Linked DNA regions of Homo sapiens: regions 2 and 3 are each linked to region 1. Evidence: fine-mapped expression QTL. Tissue or cell type: whole blood. Region 1 holds a variant in brackets; each other region holds the start of a gene. All regions are shown on one strand. Distances are from middle to middle.

What was found. PIP is the estimated chance that this variant, and not a neighbour inherited with it, causes the effect.
Region 2: CLEC7A starts here. The variant in region 1 is fine-mapped to the expression of CLEC7A in whole blood (TOPMed, PIP above 0.99).
Region 3: CLEC9A starts here. The variant in region 1 is fine-mapped to the expression of CLEC9A in whole blood (INTERVAL, PIP above 0.99). The same link has a PIP of 0.9 or more in neutrophils.

What each region holds. Positions count from the first base shown.
Region 1 is chr12:10,066,748-10,074,858 of GRCh38, reverse strand. It overlaps CLEC1A (C-type lectin domain family 1 member A), which reads left to right. Exons shown (of 6, transcript NM_016511.4): 5 at 1,448-1,566; 6 at 3,346-5,305. The coding sequence ends at 3,526. Among named protein-coding and RNA genes, the nearest start is that of CLEC1A, 28 kb to the left of the region's middle. The variant A/G (reference allele first, on the strand shown) is at 4,672.
Region 2 is chr12:10,126,075-10,134,185 of GRCh38, reverse strand. It overlaps CLEC7A (C-type lectin domain containing 7A), which reads left to right and starts at 3,987. Exons shown (of 6, transcript NM_197947.3): 1 at 3,987-4,206; 2 at 6,341-6,439; 3 at 7,478-7,615. The coding sequence starts at 4,104. It overlaps LOC105369655 (a long non-coding RNA gene), which reads right to left. Exons shown (of 4, transcript XR_007063208.1): 2 at 2,946-3,105; 3 at 2,394-2,501; 4 at 572-900. RefSeq lists an enhancer at 1-448.
Region 3 is chr12:10,027,335-10,035,445 of GRCh38, reverse strand. CLEC9A (C-type lectin domain containing 9A) reads right to left here and starts at 4,764. Exons shown (of 9, transcript NM_207345.4): 1 at 4,474-4,764. It overlaps LOC102724020 (a long non-coding RNA gene), which reads left to right and starts at 4,823. Exons shown (of 4, transcript NR_169587.1): 1 at 4,823-4,903; 2 at 7,472-7,647.

The sequences.
Region 1 (8,111 bases):
TCTTGATGAAGAGTAGGTTATCAACAAAGGGTTATTTAATTGAATTAAATGCTCAGCTCACTACACAAATTCTTAACATCATTCTAATTACTTCTTAATTTCTACCTACCTCCTGAAATCTGTGATGAAAGAACCTCTGTAATTTTTCTCGGCTACTAATATTTTATAACCCTTTCTCGATGGCTTAATTTAGGCAGAAAGCGAGGCAATTTCTTTGACTAAGACAGTGTGCCCTAGCATAAACCCTCCTAATTTTTCTTATTCTCTTTGATTCCTCTGCCTCCAGCATACACTGCAAACTCAGGTATAAAACTGAACTATATTATATCACGTGGTAGGAAATTGTCTTGTTGAACCTATGTAGTTATTTTCTATCATGAACTTCATATATTTGTATATATTTAAATCTTTTTCATATGATTTGCTTTCAAAATTTTTAATTTGAAGGCACCCGCCCATTTAATTGGAATAAATATTTTCAACTACAGTTATTTTCACCTGTTCACTCTACGACTATTGCTTGGTAATAGCTTCATTTACATTTTCAATAATCTCTCATTAAATCAGTATATTTTATTAATTATCTGAGGGGTTTTGGATGTAACAATGAAACAAAGTGTACGGCCTTGAGAAACTCATTATTTAAATGGATAATTATAATAAATATTTAGATAATTTCTATGTTAAAATATTAGGAGTGCACTGAGCCTGGGGAGGTTGAGGCTGCAGTGAGCTATGATCGTGCCACTGCACTCCAGCCTGGGCAACAGAGTGAGACCCTGTCGCCACCAATCCTCCAAAAATATCTATTAGGAGTGCAGAGTGAGACTAGATAGAAGTAAGTAAACAACTTTTAAAATGTAAACATATGTTAAATATGGATATTGGGAAAAGGATTACCATGTATAGGACTATACACATGTGTGCACATAAATATTTATAGATAGAAATTTAAAAATTTCTTTCTTCTCTTCCTAGTCTAAGACATAAATCATCCTTGCAAATTTTTCTTTTACTTTTTTTCTTCCTTTCCCAGGTATTTATAACGGTTACTACCTCATTCCTGCACTTTTCCCTCCATATTCTTCCATGTCCCAGAATCATTCTGCATCTCTTTGTTAGTCTTTCCCTCATATTTTTATGTCAACATTAATGTTTAATTCTGTGCCTTAAAAGCCATGGGTCAGGAACAAATCTTGGTTGATGTGATTTCCGCTTTCAGAATATCGACATGTGTTCCATATTTACTAAGACAAAATAAGTTATTAAACCTGGACAAATTTCTGACTGGCCTCAGCATAGATGCTTTTTCTCTTAAGCATATGAGCATCAATGTGAAGCAGGACTTGTGTGTGCTTTGAGAAAAGTGCTGGCTGGCCCATGCATGTCTGTACATGTGAGTAATCATGCCACCAAAGCTAAAGCTTTTCTTATGTGCTTTTCACAGGAATTTGCCGCGTCTCAGAGCTACTCTGAGTTTTTCTACTCTTATTGGACAGGGCTTTTGCGCCCTGACAGTGGCAAGGCCTGGCTGTGGATGGATGGAACCCCTTTCACTTCTGAACTGTAAGCCTTCAGGATATTTTATGGGAAAGGCATTTAACAAAGATATTTTGCTTGAGTGATAGAGCTCAAGAATTTGGTCCATCAAGTATTAATCAAACTTCTGCTTTGTACTGGATACTGTGTTTGCAGGAGGATGCCTGAAGATATTTGAACAATAGTGCATCCTCATTTTGTTTGTGTGTGTGTGTGTGTTTGTTCGTTTGATTGTTTTTTGAGATAGGGTCTTGTTCTGTTGCATGGGCTGGAGTGCAGTGGTGCAAGCTCTGCTCACTGAAACCTCTGCCTCCCAGGCTCAAGCTCTCCTCTCACCTCAGCCTTCTGAGTAGCTCGGACTACAGGCGTGCACCACTACATGCAGCTAATTTTTTGTCTTTTTTGGAAAGACAGGATTATGATGTGTTGCCCAGTCTTGTTTAGAACTCCTGGACTCAAGTGATTTGCCCATCTTGGCCTCCCAAAGTGCTGAGATTACAAGCATGAGCCACCGCACCCGGCCAGTGCCTGCTTTTGAACTGCTTATAAGCCAGTGAGGGAGACAGATACATAGCATTAGTAAAATATCAGGGTAGTTCTCTTGCTGCTTTCAGAAGTTTGTGTCTGGGACATACTGCAGATGAGAGAAGGGAGAGACAGAGAGAGAGAGAGAGAGAGAGAGAGATCTTTCCCTGAGTGAGTAAATTGAAGCCCAGGAGTCCAGGCTGTAATGGTGGTTGCCTAAAGTCACACAACTTGTCAGTACCCAGAGATAGCATAAGAGTTCTTGGCTTTCTGTGCAGCAAAATAGGGAGCACATCTTTTAAAAAACACAATCTCTGAGAAAAGATTTGCTGAAAATGTAAGGGGTAATATAAAACACTAGTCGTACATATGCTGTGAGCATTTAGACAGGAGTACATATGGTATCTGTGTTAGTCCATTTTTGCATCAGCATAAATGAATGCCTGAGGTTGGATAGCTTATAAAGAAAGGAGGTTTAATTGGCTCACAATCCTGCAGGCTGTACAAGCATCTGCTTGGCTTCTGAGGAGGCTTCAGGGAGCTTTACTCATGGCAGAAGGCGAAGCAAGAGCTGGCATGTCCAATGGCAAGAGAGAACACAAAAGAGAAGGGGCTGGGGGGAGGTTCCAGGCCCTTTTAAGCCACCAGATCTTGCATCAACTAACTGAGTGAGAACTCACTCATCACCAAGAAGAGGGCACCAAGCCATTCATGAGGGATCCACCCCGATGACCCGAACACCTCCCACCAGGCCCCATCTCCAACACTGGGGATAACATTTCAACTAAGATTTGGAAAGAACACACATCCAAACCACATCAGTATCCTTTGAAAGAGGAAATTGTAATTTCTCTATCAAAATATATCACATTTAAAGCCATATTTGAACAGACACCATTCTTCCCTATATACAATATATCATTATTCTCCCAGGAGACAGGATATATTTGATGTAATCATTTGTATTTTACAGTTAAGTAAACTGAGTTACAGAGAAGGTAGAGAACTTTTTAAGTGGCAGAAACACTATATAAATTTGGAGGAGAACACGTAGCTTCGCTTTAGTTAGAAATGGTTTTTGCTGTTTGGGGTGACCTGCTGTTTCTAAGAATGAGTATGGAAACTTAGGGGCTGAAGAGAAAGAGGCACATGACCCCAGTTTCCCGGTAAACTTATTCTGGTATCTAGACTATAATTTTATAACTCTAGAAAGAATGGGTATTTAATATTTTATTTTAGAAATAAACCGTGATTGAATTTACTTTTTCTTCCTTTCTTAAGGTTCCATATTATAATAGATGTCACCAGCCCAAGAAGCAGAGACTGTGTGGCCATCCTTAATGGGATGATCTTCTCAAAGGACTGCAAAGAATTGAAGCGTTGTGTCTGTGAGAGAAGGGCAGGAATGGTGAAGCCAGAGAGCCTCCATGTCCCCCCTGAAACATTAGGCGAAGGTGACTGATTCGCCCTCTGCAACTACAAATAGCAGAGTGAGCCAGGCGGTGCCAAAGCAAGGGCTAGTTGAGACATTGGGAAATGGAACATAATCAGGAAAGACTATCTCTCTGACTAGTACAAAATGGGTTCTCGTGTTTCCTGTTCAGGATCACCAGCATTTCTGAGCTTGGGTTTATGCACGTATTTAACAGTCACAAGAAGTCTTATTTACATGCCACCAACCAACCTCAGAAACCCATAATGTCATCTGCCTTCTTGGCTTAGAGATAACTTTTAGCTCTCTTTCTTCTCAATGTCTAATATCACCTCCCTGTTTTCATGTCTTCCTTACACTTGGTGGAATAAGAAACTTTTTGAAGTAGAGGAAATACATTGAGGTAACATCCTTTTCTCTGACAGTCAAGTAGTCCATCAGAAATTGGCAGTCACTTCCCAGATTGTACCAGCAAATACACAAGGAATTCTTTTTGTTTGTTTCAGTTCATACTAGTCCCTTCCCAATCCATCAGTAAAGACCCCATCTGCCTTGTCCATGCCGTTTCCCAACAGGGATGTCACTTGATATGAGAATCTCAAATCTCAATGCCTTATAAGCATTCCTTCCTGTGTCCATTAAGACTCTGATAATTGTCTCCCCTCCATAGGAATTTCTCCCAGGAAAGAAATATATCCCCATCTCCGTTTCATATCAGAACTACCGTCCCCGATATTCCCTTCAGAGAGATTAAAGACCAGAAAAAAGTGAGCCTCTTCATCTGCACCTGTAATAGTTTCAGTTCCTATTTTCTTCCATTGACCCATATTTATACCTTTCAGGTACTGAAGATTTAATAATAATAAATGTAAATACTGTGAAGTGTGTGTGATTTTACAATGGACTTATGGTTGGTGGGAAAATTCAGCATGGAAATGCTTTTCAAAATATGATAGCGGTCATTATTTTGATTGTGCCTTACTGAAAGTTTTTGGGGAATTTACAAGAGTACTGATTACATGATTATCTGGAGAAAATAAGATGTCTTTGAAATACGTGTTGGCTTCAAGAAAACAGTTTTAACGTTTTCCTAAAATGAAATCTTTTGAGGTGAGCTTATGGCATCAACACATGGTTGATGAGGAAGCTGAGTTGCATTAGTGCACATGATTTCC[A/G]GTCAGGTCATGGGAAATGAACAGAGACAGTGACATCTTTGTAGCTGCTCCTTTGTGAGGCACTTCTTTCTTGAGACGACTCCATGCACAAATATAACAGGGATCATTGGGAATGACACCATCACAGCCACCAAGTTTATTGGTTTACTGATAAATCAATTTTGAGGGTTTTATGCTAGAAAAGATAACATTATAAATCTTTGTTTTTCAACAGTGGAAACTGAGGTGCTTCAGTTTTGTTTTTCATAAACATCTATCTCATGGTAAAATGACGTATAGTAGCAATCATATGATAGAAAGAACACATTGGTGCTCATTTTCATAAACTTCATTTTGTTAGATTGTCACTTAGCAAAGACTATTGCGGATTCTTCCTTGAGAACTTTCCTTTCAATTTTCTGTTGATTTCCTTAAAATTTTCTTCAGGGTCGAGCAAGTTCTGTTGATATATTGTGTCATGCAAAGAAAACTGTATTTGTGGTTAGAAAATGAAGATTTTAGACCTCTTATTCTGATTTACTTATTAGGCAAGTCACTTTACTTCATGAAACCTATTTCACTGCATATGAAGTAGAAATAATTATAATTTCCTCATAATGTTACTGTTAGCTGAAATAAAGTAAATGTGAAATCAGTTTCATAATGTGAACTGCAATAAAAAATGTAAGGGAAGTCAAGAAAATATTTTTAAAAGGATCTAGTGATTTATTTTTAAATATAGGGGCGCACATACACATGCATAAGCAATGTTAAAAAGAAAAAAACTTCAGCTCAATTAAATTTAAAAGAGTTTAATTGAGCAATGACTCATTCACAAATCAGGCAGCCTCCAGAGCCAGAGTAGACTCAGAGGCTCCAGTGCAGCCATGTGGTGGAAGAAGATTTATGGACAGAAAAAGGAAAACGTAGTAAAGAAAACGGAAGTGAGGTACAGAAAAAGCTGGATTGCTTACAGCTCGGAGTTTGCCTTATTTGAACACAATTCAAACAGTTGGCTACATTTGATTGGCCAAAGCACAGTGATTGGCACAAGTATAGACTAGGGTCTGTTTACCCCTCAACTTGTTATAGTTGACATTATGTACAGAGAATCCTTTAAGCTAAACTTAAAATACGTAAAAAGGCAGCGTTAGGCTAAACTTGATTTATTAATAACAACAAACTTCTTTGGAAATCTGTATTTATGAACAAATTGTAGAAGGGCACCTACTTTGGGGAGCTAAGGATTTTATTACCAAATATTTTTGATGATGAGTGCAGATTTTCGATGAAAGTAGTTCATATAATAGGTACATAACAAGAAATGAGAAGTAAGCCTGCAGTTAAGCAATTGTTATGTAAGCCTTGTTGCTACAGAAAGAAAATATGACTGATAGGAGGAAGTCAAATGATTTTGTGGACTAAGCTGTAAAACAGAGACATGCACTCATTTAAGTTTTGACTCCTAGCATCCTATGTGGCTGCAGTCTAGCTCAGGGATGGATGACAAGCCACTCTTTAAGTGCCATTGATGTGAAGGGTCTAGCTGCCTAGAGTGAGTTTTGAATGGTATGTCATTCCAAGTCTGGGACTAAGGGATAGTGTCACTTTAGATTGTGAGGAGGAAAAAATAGCATACATTTGACATACTTCAGCTCCTTCCCTGAGTTTATTCTTCATGTTTCCCCTTAATCCCTTTGTCTTTATAGCAAAACTCACAATATTGATCACAATGTGAACAAACATTTCAAAACAACAGAAAAAAGTGTATAGCATAGCATTCTCACTACACACTTTAGAAAAATGATATTAAGAATAGGACATAATGATAAAGTGAATTTTAAAATCTGATTTGCTAAGAACAATATCCAGTTGAGAATCAGAGAGGGGCACTGTATGAACTGGTTTTTCTGGATGAGGAGACTTTTTTCTTTCTAGGTTCTTGTTTATGTAATTCTGAAGAAATTGCAGGAACAGTCAAACGAGGAGCCCAGCCTTTCCTGGTAGAGCTGAGATCTCCGGTACACAATAAGCTCTTTCTTTTCCTGAGGATATTGAACCAGCTTTCAGGATTTATCAACAGGAAACAGGTCATGAGCCCTGTAACAGCAGGAAGTGTGAGAAGAGTAACGGGGAGCTTTTATTTTGAGGATACAAACACATTATGAACAAGGAGAAAAGTCTAGTAGGTTAGCAGGTTGTCTCTGGGCCAGCTTTAATATTTGGGAGTCAACTCCTCTGTAGAGAGATTCTTACAGTATTTGAAGATTACAAACAAATCAGGATCCTCTGATTTAAAGTCTGCGTGACTTTTGTACACGCTTCATTATATGAATAGATTTTTAGGCTCGAATAGTATCTACTATTATTCTACCAATATTATTATGTATACTTTTTATACATTTAATGTACTTTAACCAAACATGTAAAAAAACTCTTCACATTTGCAGGATAGTTTTATTTTTAGTTTTCTTTTCGTTTGTTTAAGACTAACTTAGAACTCAATGAAAGAGATCTAAGATGCCCAATTCATTGTTGGTGGGACTAGGATATAAGACTGGCATACTCAGTGTTGTATCTGAAAAGCCTTGGTATCCTGGACCAAAAGCAACCTGCAGAGAAGAATCACCCAACTATAGCATCTGTGTGGAAAGTAGCATCGCTGCTGAGGAGATTTGTAGGAGCTGAAGTCAGCTGCGCTGTAGATAAATTCTAATTTGAAAATACTGCATCATACACTACGGGATGACATCAGCTGAAGGATGTTTGCCTTTTGCTTTATTGTACTTCTTAAAGAATGATTATAAGTGCTTCGTATCCTTCCTCTAAACATAGTTCCATGACAATACTTTGAAGAATCTTTAAGGCAAACAGTCTTTGCTAGTAAATTCCACTATTGTTTCTCCTTTATTCCAGGTTATTACATTCAGCTGCCAGCTGTCAGCTGTAAAAATCAAACACAGGAGACAATATATGCTGTGTTTTCTCTGCTATTCTCCTTTTTCAGGTTCTGCAGAAAATTAGAGAAAAATCTCTTTTACTTAAACTCCCACATTTAAACTCTAGGTCAAGGGTAAATAAACAAAAACATGCTCTTCTCATCCTTACACAACCTTACCCATTGTAAAAGGACATTTAGGTAAGAGGATATTTAGTTTCATTTAAATGATTTCCAGTGACTCAGAGAATTAGGTTTTTTTTTTACTTTATATATTTAAGTGATGCCTTTATGCTTAGGAAGAAAAGATGATAATCTAATGAATCTCAGCTCCTCTTTATGAGAAATGAAGAATTAAATAAAATTATACTGAATTAAGCAAATATTTATTGAGAACCTACTATGTGGTACGGCGTTCTTGCAGGGACGTAAGTGGTAACAAGTAATATAATAATAATTAAAGAATCTGTTCTTTCTGTAGATCACAGGGTTCTTTGCTATTAATGGTCTCTAGGGAATAAGA
Region 2 (8,111 bases), 59 kb before region 1:
AACTTCACTGAAAATGTAAGTTAGATAACTGGTTTGTTTTTTGTCTTTTCTTTTGTTAGGTTGGTTTGTTTCCACCTGTTTCTTTCCTTTTTTTTTTTTTTTTTTTTTAGATGGAGTTTCACTGTTGTTGCCCAGGTTGGGGTGCAGTGGCACGATCTTGGCTCACTACAACTTCCACCTCCTGGGTTCAAGTGATTCTCCTGTCTCAGCCTCCTAAATAGCTGGGATTAAAGGCACCTGCCACCCCACCCAGCTAATTTTTTATATTTTTAGTAGAGATGGGGTTCCATCATGTTTGCCAGACTGATCTCAAACTGCTGACCTCAGGTGATCCACCTGCCTCAGCCTCCCAAAGTGTAGGAATTACAGGCCTGAGCCACCATGCTCGGCCTTCCACCTGTTTCTTGCATTAACATTTAATGAGGGGTATTTTTCTCTGAATACCCAGCCTATCTCTCCCACTGTCTTGAAATACGAAGGGTATTGTTTTTCTAGTTTGTCAATGATTTGCATAATTAATGTTTAATTGCTTTATTTTAGACAAAGAGACAAAAAAGGAGAATAATGAGAATTAGACTAAAGTTTATGTTTATTGAAAAATTTCTTTGACCACTTAGAGAGTTAACTGTTTTCATAGGATTGTGATTAAACACAGGGTGACAGTCAAAGTCACTATAGGGAAAAACTCTCCCACTGGAGGTCTGATTTGATAGTAAAGACAGCTTCTTATTACTGACTGCAAGGTACTCCCCTCATTATTGTTCTCTAGTTCTCTATTTCTATTTAAGAGGTCGACCCTTTTTCCTGGAGCCAATGTATTCACTGTTTGAGAAATTCCATGGTATCCCTTTGTAGGGGTGAAAGATTCCTTTTCCTCACTCATTGCTAGGTTCACGGCATCTACAATAAAACATAGATCAACAAGAGAATAGCATCCAAATTTATTTAATAGAAGTTACCTGAACAAACAGGCCTTGTTAAGTTCTACTCAGCTTATTACCATTAGATTATACCCTTTTGTTCTCCAGTCATACTTCTGCATAACTGTCCGTAGAAATACTCAGTTTTCCCTGCGTCTTCATTTCAGAAGGCTCTCTTGTCGTATAACATTTACATGCTTTTGTTTTGTTAATCTGTCTTTTGTTATAGGGGTCTCAGTCACGAACCTGGTGATGGGCAAGGAAAAGATACTACTTTTTCTCCCCTACGTTGGACAAGGAGGGTATGATCTAATGCTAATAAACTGGAGGGAGCTTAGCAAGACTAATTTGTTCAGATTCTTCTTGGCATCTCTGTATCTTCAAAGATAAGGAAGTTTCTTTCCTCTAGGAAACAATACTTCTAAAATAAGGGTCTTATGATCTGCTTCAGGGCAGAAAGACGGGGAAAGGTGTGAGAGTGAATTTCCTGATTCTGCTGTTTTCTCAAATGCCAAGAATCCATATTTTGGGGTTGCATGTCCTGAACCTCATACGCTGCTTTCCAAGCACTGCATTATAGGACTGAAACACTGATGAATGTTGAGATTAAGATCCACATTACCACTTTGCAACATGTCTACAAAAACTTAGTAAAACTTTTGTGGCAGCTTAAGTAAGGCGGGAAGCTCATTTATGTACTCTCTTGAGCTCTCTTCCATTTTGATAGGTGTTAGACTGTCAGAACTGCAGAGCCCTCATCATATAACAACTCCTCCCAAATCTCTGCACTAGAGACTTGGCAAACTCTAGCACGCCTTCTAGTAGCCTAAGGCAAGGTCCATAGGATGATTCAGCACTACTTAAAAGGCCAGCCTGAGGAAGCCCAATGCTGCTAGGAGAATTTACTTTTTGTTCCAGTTAAAACTTGTTAACAGGCCAGGTGTGGTGGCTCATGCGTGTAATCCCAGCACCTTGGGAGGCCGAGGCGGGCGGATCACGAGGTCAGGAGATCGAGACCATTCTGGTTAACACGATGAAACCCTGTCTCTACTAAAAATACAAAAAATTAGCCAGGCATGGTGGCGGGCGCCTGTAGTCCCAGCTACTTGGGAGGCTGAGGCAGGAGAATGGCGTGAACCCAGGAGGCAGAGCTTGCAGTGAGCCGAAATCGCGCCACTGCACTCCAGCGTGGGCAACAGAGCGAGACTCTGTCTCAAAACAACAACAACAACAAAAAACTTGGTAACAGATAGGCTCCTGAATTCCTTTTAGAGCAGTTACTTTAGAAATCTTACAGTTAGGCCAGGTGCAGTGGCTCACGCCTGTAATCCCAGCACTTTGGGAGGCCGAGGCAGGCGGATCACCAGAGGTCAGGGGTTCAAGACCAGCCTGACCAACATGGAGAAATGCTGTCTCTACTAAAAATACAAAATTAGCCTGGCGTGGTGGCACATGCCTGTAATCCCAGCTTACTCAGGAGGCTGAGGCAGGAGAATCGCTTGAACCCGGGAGGCGGAGGTTGTGGTGAGCCGAGATCGTGCCATTTGCACACCAGCCTGGGCAACAAGAGCGAAATTTCGTCTAAAAAAAAAAAAAGAAAGAAAAGAAAAATAAATCTTACAGTTAAATTCTTTCTCTGCCCTTTGAGAAGCAAATCTACCACACAGAACTGTTTCTTCAAGGACTTGGGAGCTGTTTCTTTGAAATGCAAACATTCAGGGAGATAAATCTTGCTCTTTCTTTCAGATGCAGCATAAGGACCAACTTAGCTGGGTGCTTCACTTCAACTATCACCATGTCCTTCTGTCATATAGATAGGCAAAGTTTCTCTGTCCTCTGGATAAGGGCCAATTAACAAATCCAGAGAGTCTAGTCACATTAACTTTCCTTAACACCACTCAGTATCTTTTCCTTAGCAAACTCCACTTTAAAATGTCATCAGCTTTACTTTTGGGGAAGTTGAGTTCAGTTAATGCTGCACTGGTTCCTGTTGCAATAGTATTACTGAATAAAACCTGTCCTCACCACATTAACTAGTATCCAGATTTGTTGATCCTTGACAACACTCAGATGTCTCCTGCACTCTACTGGCTTCAAGGTCGGATAAATGAGTTGAACACCTCTTCAGTTTCCAGCAATGTTAGGTGTTTTCTATATTTCTTTGATTTGATCATTACTATGGAAACTGGAAGAGAGGGAAAAAAAATCAAACATCTAACATAATATTTCAGTCCCAACACCTTCCATAAGCTGTTCCTTGCAATATAAGTGTATGGAATGATGAAAGAGGCAGTGTAGCGTAACAGAAAAGACCACGAGTTTTGCAGCAAGAGTCAGCTTTGATTTGATTCCTTGCTCTAAATTTTTAAAATTAGCTTCTTAAACCTGAGAAAGAGGCTAAATTTTCTGTCTCATTTTTTCATTTGAAAATAGAAATAATAATGCCTACTATATAGACTTGGAAAAGTGAGATTGAACAAGAAAATATGTACAACATGTGGTACTTAGCTCATAGTAATTGTTCAATAAATGTTATTTTGTGTTAATATCTGATAATTCCCAAAGAGATTTGTTTTCTCTGTCTGTTGTTACAACAATGCATCTCCTCATGCCATCCCTCATTTACCTATCTATATATTTCCTTTATTAAGCAATGAGTTTCTTCATAGGTATCATTTTTCCTTGTATTGTAAGCTCCTACCAATTGAAAAGGTGGGCATCCAGTACCTGTTTATGTAATTTAAAAAATACATGAATAAATACATGAACAAAGTTATGGTAAACTTGGAGCACCAAAACTGAAATAGTTTGCATCGGTTAAATTAATTAATGTCAGACTTAGTTGTGAGAGTAATGAAGGCAGCATAAGACATTAATGTATGCATTTTTCTTACATTTGGTCTGAAACAAAGACTCATCTGCTATGCTGCCTTTTAGTTTTCCTGAGTCAGCAGTCTCAGAAACAGGATCTAAAGGTACAAATGGAAAATTACCACAGCATAGTTTCATTTCCTGCTCTTGAATATCTGGTTGAACTACTTAAGCTTAATTTGTTAAACTCCGGTAAGTACCTAGCCCACATGATTTGACTCAGAGATTCTCTTTTGTCCACAGACAGTCATCTCAGGAGCAGAAAGAAAAGAGCTCCCAAATGCTATATCTATTCAGGGGCTCTCAAGAACAATGGAATATCATCCTGATTTAGAAAATTTGGATGAAGATGGATATACTCAATTACACTTCGACTCTCAAAGCAATACCAGGATAGCTGTTGTTTCAGAGAAAGGTATATATATGTTTTTTCTAATGTGTGCCTTTAGCTCTCCCGTTTGAAAAGATATAAGGGGAGGCTAGGCATGGTGGCTCACACCTGTAATCCCAGCACTTTGGGAGGCCGAGGCGGGTGGATTGACTGAGGTCAGGAGTTCGAGGCCAGCTTGGCTAACGTGGTGAAACTCTGTCTCTACTAAAAATACAAAAATTAGCCGGGCATGGTGGTGCACGCCTGTAGTTCCAGGTACTTGGGAGGCTGAGGCAGGAGAATCACTTGAACCTGGGAGGTGGAGGTTGCAGTGAGCCAAGATCATGCCAATGCACTCCAGCCTGGGTGGCAGAGCAAGACTCCATCTCTGAAAAAAAATAAAAATAAAAACAAAACAAAAAGATATAAGGGGAGAAAATTTGAGAGCCTCGTGATGTGTATATTTTTATGGATATACTTTTAAAGGCTTCAGATGTCACTGAAGATAAATTGAATGCACCCTAAACCTTTTTTCATGAAAATTATTCAGTGACCAATTATTAGTGTTTAAATTAATTATGTCTGATGGCAGAAAATAGAATTTCTCTTTTCTATAGATATAGACATTTCATCAGTGAGGAATTGGTAATAAGTGGGATAATACACAAAGATAAAGGATTTCTGTATGAGTGACTTGTTGCTTGTTTGATAGAAAGGCTAGATTATCGAATGGAGGCCAGGAAACTTAAAGAAGTATATATATGAACAACATTTTTTTTTTGTGGTAAGAGATTAATTTAAATTGTTTTTAAACAAAAAACAATTATTGGTATACCAGTGATGGAAAATATATGAACATATGGTAGATAAAAACATCCCACCAGCAGGACATGAGTCTTAAACAAAGTGTAAATGAAATGAAATAGAAAGAAGGGCATTGGAGGATCTCTGTATTCATAGAATGGGTGATTTAGCCTACTCTACGATTCTCCTATGTGACAATTCTATGAAATGTCCTGACAGCTTAGTCACAGTGGAAAGCAGAAATACATTCTGGTTATGGCAATGTTCATACAAAATTAGTTCCCTATTATCTTTGAGAGAGAGAGATCATTTGTCGGTTTTGACACCAGAGTTTGCTTTCTTCTGCTTTCTGGTTATTCACACTGCACAAATATTTTCCTCTCAGCACTGATGTAATTCTTTTCTTGGGCAACCTATTGAGGAAGCGTGGAAAAAGTGGATGAGGCAAGAGGTAGGGAGACATGCGCATGTTTATGCATATGTGTAGGCAAACGGTATCCTGCAACAACACACCTATCATGTGCTAGCAGTCTCTAAACAAGGTGCTTTTATATGTGTTAGCTCGTTTAATTCCCGCAATAATCCTTTGAGATATTATTACCCCAGTTTCACAAAGAGGAATAAAAAACAACAAAGGGAGTAATTTGCCCAGGGTCATGCAACAAACATATGAAAAGGGAAAATTACCCTTAGTAATCAGTGCTATCTCCCCAACATTAAGCTATTTCCTCTAAGAATCAGTGGGATTTCAGGGATCCTACTAATGTCAAGACCTGTAGATGTCAATGTGGAACTGAAATTAGGAGCATACAGTTATCAAGCCAATGTGCCGAAATTACAATTCCAGCAATTGAAGAAGAAGGTATCCTTACTGGTGGAGAAGCACAGCAAATCCTAGGTGACCAGGTAACCTAGGCAGTGATTAATAATTCACTTAAAAATTTGCCAGTATTTTTTGTTGTTGTTGTTGGTGGTGTGTGTGTGTGTGTGTGTGTGTGTGTGTGTGTGTGTGTTTTAACAGGGTATCACTTTTTTGCCTATGCTGCTCTGGAATTCCTAGGCTCAAGTGATCCTCCTGCCACAGCCTCCAGAGTAGCTGGGACTACGGGAGCTCACCACAATGCCCAGCTAATTAAATTTTTTTTCTTTCTTTGTTTTTCTTTTTTTTTTTTGGTAGGGACAGGGTCTCCCTGTGTTGCCCAGGCTGGTCTTGAGCTTCTGGCCTCAAGCAATCCTCCTACCTCAGTCTCCCTTCTGGGATTACAGGTGTGAGCCACCGTGCAAGGCCAGATTTTTGATGAACTGTAGAATTAAACTGCCCCACCATCCGTCATTCTCTTTCTTTATTCCATTTCTGCCCCCTCTGGCTCCTCAGGATCGTGTGCTGCATCTCCTCCTTGGCGCCTCATTGCTGTAATTTTGGGAATCCTATGCTTGGTAATACTGGTGATAGCTGTGGTCCTGGGTACCATGGGTGAGTATTTGGTGGAGGAGATTAACAACAGACAATTTAGTAAGCAATTATTATGTGCCAGGCACTCTTTTAAGGGCTTGACATGCATAATCTACTTTAATTTGTATATAATCTGGTTTTATCTGTATTGGGTTGGTGCTGTTAATGCCCATTTCACTTATAAAGGGTGTGAGAGACTGAGAGGTTATTTTACCTTTCCAGGGTTATAAGCTAGTTAGTGGTGGGACCATGATTAGAAATTTGGGTGATCTGTCTAAAAAACTCATACTCTTAACTACATTGCTCTCCTACCTCCCTTACATAGCTGGTTTCAAAGCTGTGGAATTCAAAGGATAAATTAATGAAGAAAACAAGCGGAGCTGAAGAAGAAAGTACAATATGGTGCTGTCTTCCTAATGAAATAAATTCACTAAATGGACATTAAGCTATTTTTATGATTCACATTATTTAAGGAAATTATTTCCGATCTTTAATATAAACACCTTTGAATACACCAGAAATTTCCTGAGGCACTTGGTCTTAAGTCGATATTTTGTAATGGATTAATATTTTTTTTACATTTTATATCACATGCAATCTGTTGTCAGTCACCTTCAGAGAGTCTTCATGACATTCCTTAATTAGTCAAATGTTTATTGAGTGCGTTCTATGTTATAGGTACTGGGCAGTTTCTCAAGGATCTCTCATTTTTAAATAACAGAAGAAAGGTGAAAGATGTTGCTATTTCAAATCTGTCATGGGTCCAATTGACTCTATGACATTTGCCTCTTGCTGCCTCCCTCATTCTATTTCTTCTTCTCCACCTTCTTTTTTCTTTTCTTTTTTTTTTTTTACTATACCTCCTTTATAAAAGTTATGTATTTCTTTTCATCTATTCTATCAATCGTCTTTATCTCTCCACAGCAATATATCATCTATTTATCATTAATCAATAATGTATTCTTTTATTCCAATAACATTTGGGTTTTGGGATTTTAATTTTCAAACACAGCAGAATGACATTTTTTCTGTCACTATTATTATTGTTGGTATGTGAAGCTATTTGGAGATCCAATTCAGGAAGCAACACATTGGAGAATGGCTACTTTCTATCAAGAAATAAAGAGAACCACAGTCAACCCACACAATCATCTTTAGAAGACAGTGTGACTCCTACCAAAGCTGTCAAAACCACAGGCAAGGGCATAGTTAAAGGACGGAATCTTGACTCAAGAGGGTTAATTCTTGGTGCTGAAGCCTGGGGCAGGGGTGTAAAGAAAAACACTTAGATTCAATGATTGTAAATTTAAGGCAAATACACATATTAGTATTACCTTAGTGTAATGTATCCCTGTCATATATACAATAAGGTGAAATTATAAGTACCCTATGCAGTTGGCTGGACAGTTCTAAATTGGACTTTATTAATTTTTAAAATCAGTAACTGATTTATCACTGGCTATGTGCTTAGATCTACAGGAGATCATATAATTTGATACAAATAAAAGAAAAGTGTTCTCTCCCCTTACAGAATTGACATTTTAAATGCGATACAGTTAGAATAGGAAATATGACATTAGAAAGGAAGAATGACAGGGAGAAAGGAAAGAAGGGAAAATGTTGCCAAGAATAAGGAAGCTATATTAAAAATATACAAAAGAGGTAGACCTAATACACATGTCCCTGAAAACTC
Region 3 (8,111 bases), 39 kb after region 1:
TGGCAAGGGCAATTAATTAATCATTTATTTGAACATATGTGATACAGAAGTGGGGCAGAGAAGTGCTGGATAGAGAAAGGCGGATCCCTGGCGAGGGCTCCACCCCCGGGCCTTTGCCCACCGACCTGGATGAGGACAGGCACTCCTGCCTTCATGCCCAGATGTTGCATTTCCCAAGACCATCCTGGCCCGCATGTCCCCATCCTGTGCCTATAAAACCCCCAAGACCCTAGCAGGCAGACACATAAGTGGCTGGACATTGAGAGTAGTCATCAATGGAACAAGACATAAGTGGCTGGACGTCAAGAGCATATCGGCAGGCCACCAACTGGTGAAACAAGGCAGAGTTTGGCCGGGACAATCAGAGGAGAGCCTGGGCCACTGAGTGGCCAGACTCCAGGGGAAAACCATCACCCTTTTGGCTCCACCATCCGCTGAGAGCTACTTCCTTTCACTAAAACCTTGCACTCATTCTCCAAGCCCACGTGTGATCTGATTCTTCCAGTACACCAAGGTAAGAACCCTGGGATGCAGAAAGCCTCTGTCCTTGCTATAAGGTAGGGGTCTAATTGAGCTGACTAACACAAGCCACCTATGGACGGCTAAACTAAAAGAGCACCCTGTAACACACGCCCACTGGGGCTTCAGATACAAACATTTACTCCTAGACACTACCGTGGGGCCGGAGCCCCACAGCCTGCCCCTCCCCTAGAGGTCTGAGTAGCGGGGCACTGAAGAAGCGAGCCATACCTCCATTGCACACTCTGCTAGGGGGACAAGAGAACTTTTCCCATTTCATATGTTTATTGATCACTGTGGAAGTCCCAGGCATGTTTCTATTTTCTGGGGACTAATCGTTAATGAATCATACAAGCAATGAGCTTGTATTATAGTAAAGGGTGGGGAGCACAGATAGTAAAGAAACATAGAAAGCAAAGACCAATATAATTTTACATCGAAAGCAAAGATCAACATAATTTTACATCATGAAAAGTGCTACAAATGAAGAAAAGTGATATAATTGAGTTCTTCCAGACAGGCTGGAGGCAGACCCTGGTTGGGCTCATGAGAATTGGTTTGTTTAAGCTTCACTGTCAGTGCTTGGGCAATGTCCCAGCTTTCTTCCTTTTTTTAAGATAATCCAGAATAATCCAAACTTACTTCCACTATGACAGCTGCCATTTATTGCTCTTTCTATATGCTTTTATCAGTTACATTTGTGGTAGGCATTAAACTTATGACAAATTTACTGCTAAGAAAAATAAAGCACAGAGGCTCAGTAACTTGCCAAAAGCCACAGGGCAAGTAAGTGTTGATCCAGGATTTGAATCAATCAGCCTGTCTTCACAGTGCTTCATTTTAATTCAGACATTTTATTATCCTGGTCAGGCATACTCACCTAATTGGGTGACTATATTAATACATTTAAAAATAAATTCCATCCTATATCCATCCTCTGTCTCCTCCTTGTGGCCATTTATTTTTCTTCTGCTTTTAGTTTATTTTTGTTTCCCTTATGCCTTTGATAACTCTGGCTTTCATCTTCATTTTTCCCTATTTCTTTTTTTGTAAATAATTCTGAATTAATTGTCATTCTGGCCATTCTCTGGGTACTATCCAATTTAGGCCCCACTTTAAAAGTGTCCTCTGAAACAGGCATAAGATGTGAGAATGGAAAGACTGTTAAAGAACAGAGTGAGAATGAATCCTCCTATCATGTTAACTCAGCATTTCTTTTAAGGTATTCTCAATCAACAATACTTCCATAATTAATAACTGTGCTTCCATATTTTCCAAGGTGAACAATATTTTCTGACATGTTTAATTCATGTGAGAGCAGCAAGAAAAGTCAAAGGTGATTCCAAGTTTTTGGCAGAGGAACCGTAGGTATGGAATATTCATTTATCGAGATGGAGAAACTCATTGGGAAGAGTCACTCATTTTTTGATGTGTTAAGTTAAAAAATCCTAAAATATATCAAAGTCAATATGCCAAGAATCCAGTCAGATATGTGGTTCTGGAGATCAAGCAATGGTATGGAAATATAATTTTGGACATTATCAATGTATGGCTATTAAGTCATGAGGTTACAAGAGATTAATTCCCATTCTGGCCATTCTATGGGTACTATCCAATTTAGTTCATCCCAGGATAAATTAAAAAAAAAACAAGAGGACCAAGAACTGAATTCTGGGACACAACAACATTTTAAATTAATTTAAGGAGGAATCCAAATCTGAGGGAGGATTGGGTTGTGAATGAAGCAAAAGGAAATTGAAGAGAACGGTGTCCTAGGGAACACTGTATTTTAGAGAAGAATGTATGTTATGAAAAGGGAATAATCTTTTTTTTTTTTGAATGCTTATCTGGTGCGTGAGATGAATTCTGAGAACTAGCCATTAGATGTGTTCATGTGGAGGTTAATGGTGACTTTGACTGGAGTGTTTTCATAGAAATAGTGAAGGAAAAAGCCTAATTAACATAAAGGAAAAGTAGGATGAAACAGTAAGCACAGAGAGATTTTTGAACATTTTTGTTGTCAAGAAAATTAGAGAAATGTTAAGAAGAAATATAAGAAAATTAGAATCGTGTGTATGGGGGCATGGTAAACAAAAGATGGCTTTTGCTTGTTTTTAACATAGGAGATATTATACCATGTTGGGAGGTGAAGGTGAGTGAACAAGTGGAGATGAAAAGAAATTGATAGTGCCAGAGCGAACCAAAGAAAGAAAATTACAAGCTTGAAATCCCTATTGGCCGGGCGCGGTGGCTCACACCTGTAATCCCAGCTCGTTGGGAGGCCGAAGCGGGCGGATCACGAGGTTAGGAGATCGAGACCATCCTGGCTAACACGGTGAAACCCCATCTCTACTAAAAATAAAAAAAAATTAGCCAGGCTTGGTGGCGGGTGCCTTTAGTCCCAGCTACTCGAGAGGCTGAGGCGGAAGAATGGCGTGAACCCGGGAGGCGGAGATTGCAGTGAGCCGAGATTGCGCCACTGCAGTCCAGCCTGGGTGACAAAGCGAGACTCCGTCTCAAAAAAAAAAAAAAAAAAAGAAATCCCTAAGGAGGTAGGTGGATGGATTTTAATATACAGATGGAGATTGAGCATAGATTATGTTACGGGATCTTTGGGATGTTGATTTTCTGTTCAGAAACCTGTGTGGCTGTGGCGTCTTTGCCCGAGTTCTTGTCCTGCGTCTATGGTTGCTAGATTGTATGTTAATATTATACTTAGCTCTGTAAGAAACTGCCACACTGCCTTCCAAAGTGGCTATGCCTTTTTACCTCTCACCAGCGGTGAATGAATGCTCCTGTTGCTCCACATCCTTGCCAGCATTGGATGTTGTGAGTATTTTGGATTTTAGTCATTCAAATAGTATACAGTGGTTTCTCATTGTTGTTTTAATTTGCAATTCCCTCCTAAGGTATGACATTGAGCATCTGCAACACTGAACTTAGCTCTCCAAACAAGGCTCAGCCTTGTCTGCATTCCTTTCCCTACCCTCACTTCCCCTTCTACTTGGAATGTTATTTGTAGCATTTGTTTGTCTCCTGTAACCCTGCCAATCCTTCCCAATCCTCAGAGCCTTCACTGACAGCATCGGGCGGCTCACTCGTTCCTGCTGCCATAGTAATTTGTGCGTAACTTTTCTTGAGATTTATCACATCCTGTTATTATATGCTGTTTCTTCTACCGACATTGGTTGCTACTCCCATTTCTCAACCTCCTGGCTTCAAGCAATCCTCCCACCTTGGCCTTCCAAAATGCTGGGATTACAGGTGTAACTAACTGCACCTGGTCTTGCTACTCCCGTTTCTAAATAAAATTTCAATCTGAGTAAAAACTAAAGCCAATTTCTTCCCAAAATGGTGGGGGGCACTGGACACAATATCGAAGACCATTAGCACAATCAGTAGCACCAGACAATGAGTCAGCAGAGTCACTAAAGCCTCAGGCCACGAGTTAGAAGACACTTCACAGATTAAAGGAAATCAACAGAGGAGTAAGAAATAACCAGGGATGGCCTCCTGGAGATTTCGTGTTTGACTCCCTTTCCCTCTCTATCTCTAAAGAGAAAGTGCAGAGGGCATTTTAGACTGAGGGATCAGTAGGAGCAAGAGTAAGGAAGCTACCTGATTTACAGAGGCTGTCTACTGCCTGCAGTATCAGGCCATTGAAATACACTTAACGTCTTTCCACCAGCGGCTCCAGCCTTCCCCTCCACTTGCATCTTCCCTCATCCATCTCTGCAGATGATACATACTCCCACATATCATTCATTATTTCTTAAATATATCAGCTCACACCTTCATATTATTTTACATTTCTTCAGAATCTTTCCTAACCTAGAATGCCCTTTCCCCTTTCTCCTTTAATCATGCCTTTCTTATAAAGTAGGTTCAGATGACCTTCTCTGTCAGCATCATCTGTAATGACATACCTTCCACCCTACTGCCAGTGGTTCTTACCTCTTCTGCAGAGAGTATCATCAGTTTGAATCATTTAGATCTTGGCTAACATGGGAATCTTTACCATTGTGTGGATCAAATACCCAGATCTTGATAAGAAAAATAAAAATGCTATTGTCACATAAATGGCTGGGTTTAATCATCTGTGGGCCTTAGAGTATGTTTTCTTCAGGACAAGGTAGGCCGTTGTGCTTCACAAGAGCTTGCGAGTTATTTGAGAAGAATCAAAACATGTTGCCAGTCTAGCAGAAAAGCATTTCAACTTCACCACAGATTGCCACAGCCGGGTACAAACGGAAGTCCCGCCCCCTTCCAGGTTGTTGGGGTGGGAGCTGCCGGATGAGCTGCTGCGGCCCTCGGGGCGCAGGACCACACCATCTGCGCAGCCTGCACCCTCGCGGCCCGGTAAACTTGACAGTTTCTTATAGAGGTAAGTATAGTATTAACAGACAATCTAGGAACCATAGAAAGTGGAAAACCTGTACACACTGCTGAGACCAGCTCGGTCTGGGAGACCCTAACCCAGAGGCGCTAGAGGAATTAAAGACACACACAGAAATATAGAGGTGTGAAGTGGGAAATGAGGGGTCTCACAGCCTTCACAGCCGAGAGCCCCGAACAGAGATTTACCCACGTATTTATTAGCAGCAAGCCAGTCATTAGCATGGTTTCTGTAGATATTAGGTTAACTGAAAGTATCCCTTATGGGAAACAAAGGGATGGGCCGAATTAAAGAAATAGGTTGGGCTAGTTAACTGCAGCGGGAACATGCCCTTAAGGCATAAATTGCTCATGCTATTGTTTGTGGCTTAAGAATGTCTTTAAGTGGTTTTCCACCCTGGGCGGGCCAGCTGCTCCTTGCCCTCATTCCCGTAAACCCACCACCTTCCAGCATGGGTGTTAGGGCCATCATGAACATGTCACAGTGCTGCAGAGATTTTGTTTATGGCCAGTTTTGGGGCCAGTTTATGGCCGGATTTTGGGGGGCTTGCTCCCAACACACACAAAAACTGGCACACACATTTTCACAGGAGCTTTATTCATAATTGCCAGACATTAGAAGTAATTATGATGTCTTTCAAAAGATGAGTGGATAAACAAACTGTGGTACATTCATGCAATGGAGTATCATTCGACAACAAAATGAAATGTTGTCAAACTATGAAAAACATGGAGGAATCTTAAATGCATATTACTACGTGAAAGAAGCCGGTTTGAAAAGCTATCATATTATCCTAGCTATATGACATTCGAGAAAAACCAAGACAAAGAAAACAAAGAGATCAGTTGTGACCAATGATTCAGGGGAAGAGGAAGATTGATAGGAAGGGGGAAGATTGCTGAGTAGGTAGGGCACAGGGGATTTTTGTCTGCAAAAATGTACACCCATGTACATAAGCAGGGCTCTGAATTTTTTAAACTTTTCAAATTTTGTGGCAGGGCCTATTGAATGGGTTGAGGGAGACCTTCCTGATTGATACCTACTAATGTATATACAAATTTGAGACAGATATTTTGAGGGAGAGTGGAATTCAGGTACAACATACCTATTACCCCAGAAAGGTGTCAAGTGGAAGTAAAAAAAAAAAAAAAGAGGTGTGTGAGGTAAAAAATTAAATTAAATTCTAAATGAGGACATGGAGGTTCTTGTGGAAAGTTTTTTCTTGTATATATATATATATATATATATATATATATATATATATATATATACACACACACACACACACACACTATGTTTTCTTTATCCACTTGTTCATCAATGAAATGAACATTTAGCTTGTTTTCATATTTTGGCTATTGTGAACATGGGAGGAAATGAGATATTTGTAAGACTAACTCAAACATTGCATTAAATGGTCCATATTTAATATAAAGAAATCAAGATAATTAATATATACGTCTGGCTTTTCAGATAATGGATGTAAGCCCTGTCCTGAAAGGTGGCAATGGAGCAAAAGACCAGTAATATAAAATAATTCAGGAATCCATAACATGGCAAGACAGCAAGGATAAAAATTTTTAGAGGATCTCTAAAATTTCTACCTTACTCAATATAGAGAATAAGGAATTGGTAAATATGCAGGTCTCCTGTCTTTTGTTAAAATTTACAGAGGTGAGGTGAGAAGGTAAGGGTAAGTTAAAAAAATTATTGAGTACCTAATAATAAAATACTATGCTCTCAGGCGAGTCTATAAATGATCACATTTAATTCTTCCTTTGTGTGCAAACAACAGCCTTACAAGTCTGGTAATATCATTCCTAATTTTTAGATATGAAACCTAGGCTTTAGAGGATAAGAAACTTGATTTAGATCACACAGCCTGGTTTTGCATATTGAATAGGATAACAAAAAGAGACAGAGGAAATATATACTTCCTCATTTAAATACTTATTTTTGTCTTTCATTATTGAATTCCAAATCTAACACATCATTCTGGAAAAGAGAATCTAGGGAAATAATAGTGTACAAGAAGAAGAAAATAAAATATAAACCAAAAAAGAGAATAATTTAAAAAATACATCGTATCTTGAATTTATAATTGTTCTAAGGTGGATACATTGTTATTGTATAAAGTTAAGGTTTACACAACAACTCACCTGCCTTCTGACAATTCTGACAATCAAATGCAATACTTTGGAAAGTTTTAGGAGAGCACGTTTCATTAGGGAATCAAATTTTCAGTCTAGGTAAATGAAAAGTATGCTGAAAGAAGAGAATGTACGACTGATCCGGGGAAGAAGCTTTAAAAAGTAAACACTTAATGAGATTTTTATTTATATTGGATTTAATAGAGTTTGGAGGCAGAGGAAAAGGCAGGATAAGAAAACAACTTCCTAACTTGTGCATTTTTTTTCAATGTCCATCCACAGCACAGAAGCCGTGGTGGTGTCATGGAATATTGTCAATTTCGGTTACATTTCATCATGGTCAAGTCAACTCCAGGAGGCAGCATCATGGACGATTTGGCTTATGTTCTGCTTTTGTCTTCTACAGAACCTTGTGTCTCACTGTTGTCTCCTTCCTGGCTGGGGTTATCACATGGCATATCCAACTGTGAGTGTGGGAAGATGGCATAATCCTCTGACTGTGTCAGAGTCTTAGGAAATTGTGACTGTTATAAGATGGCACAATCTCTTCCCTGATGTGTGTCAAGTTCTTAGAAAATTGTGGTGAGCTATTCCTTTTTCTTTTGGCAGGTTTTTGTCTTGGTGTTTACCAAGTGATCCGAGATAGAGAGAGGGAAAGAGGAGAGAGAGAGAGGGAGAGAAGGAGAGAGAGCGGGGGAGAGAGAGAGAGAGAAAGAGAGACAGAGAGAGACAGCGAGATGGGGAAAAAGAGAAAGGGAGAGAGAGGAGACAGGGAGAGAGGGACAGAAAGAAACGGAAGGAAAGAAGGAAGGAGGAAGGGAGGGAGGGAGGGAGGGAAGGCAGGCAGGCAGGCAGGCAGGCAGTTTTATTGCATGATCTGTGCCCTTAACCACAATGATTTGCTTCCATGGAATGAATTTCCTATTTAGCCCTCTGATTACCTAGAGGTAACCTCATACAGATGATCTATAATGAAAGTGATTGGAATACAGTAAGCTTATTTTTTTGCCAGGATTATAATACCTGGTATGATACTAGTTTACATC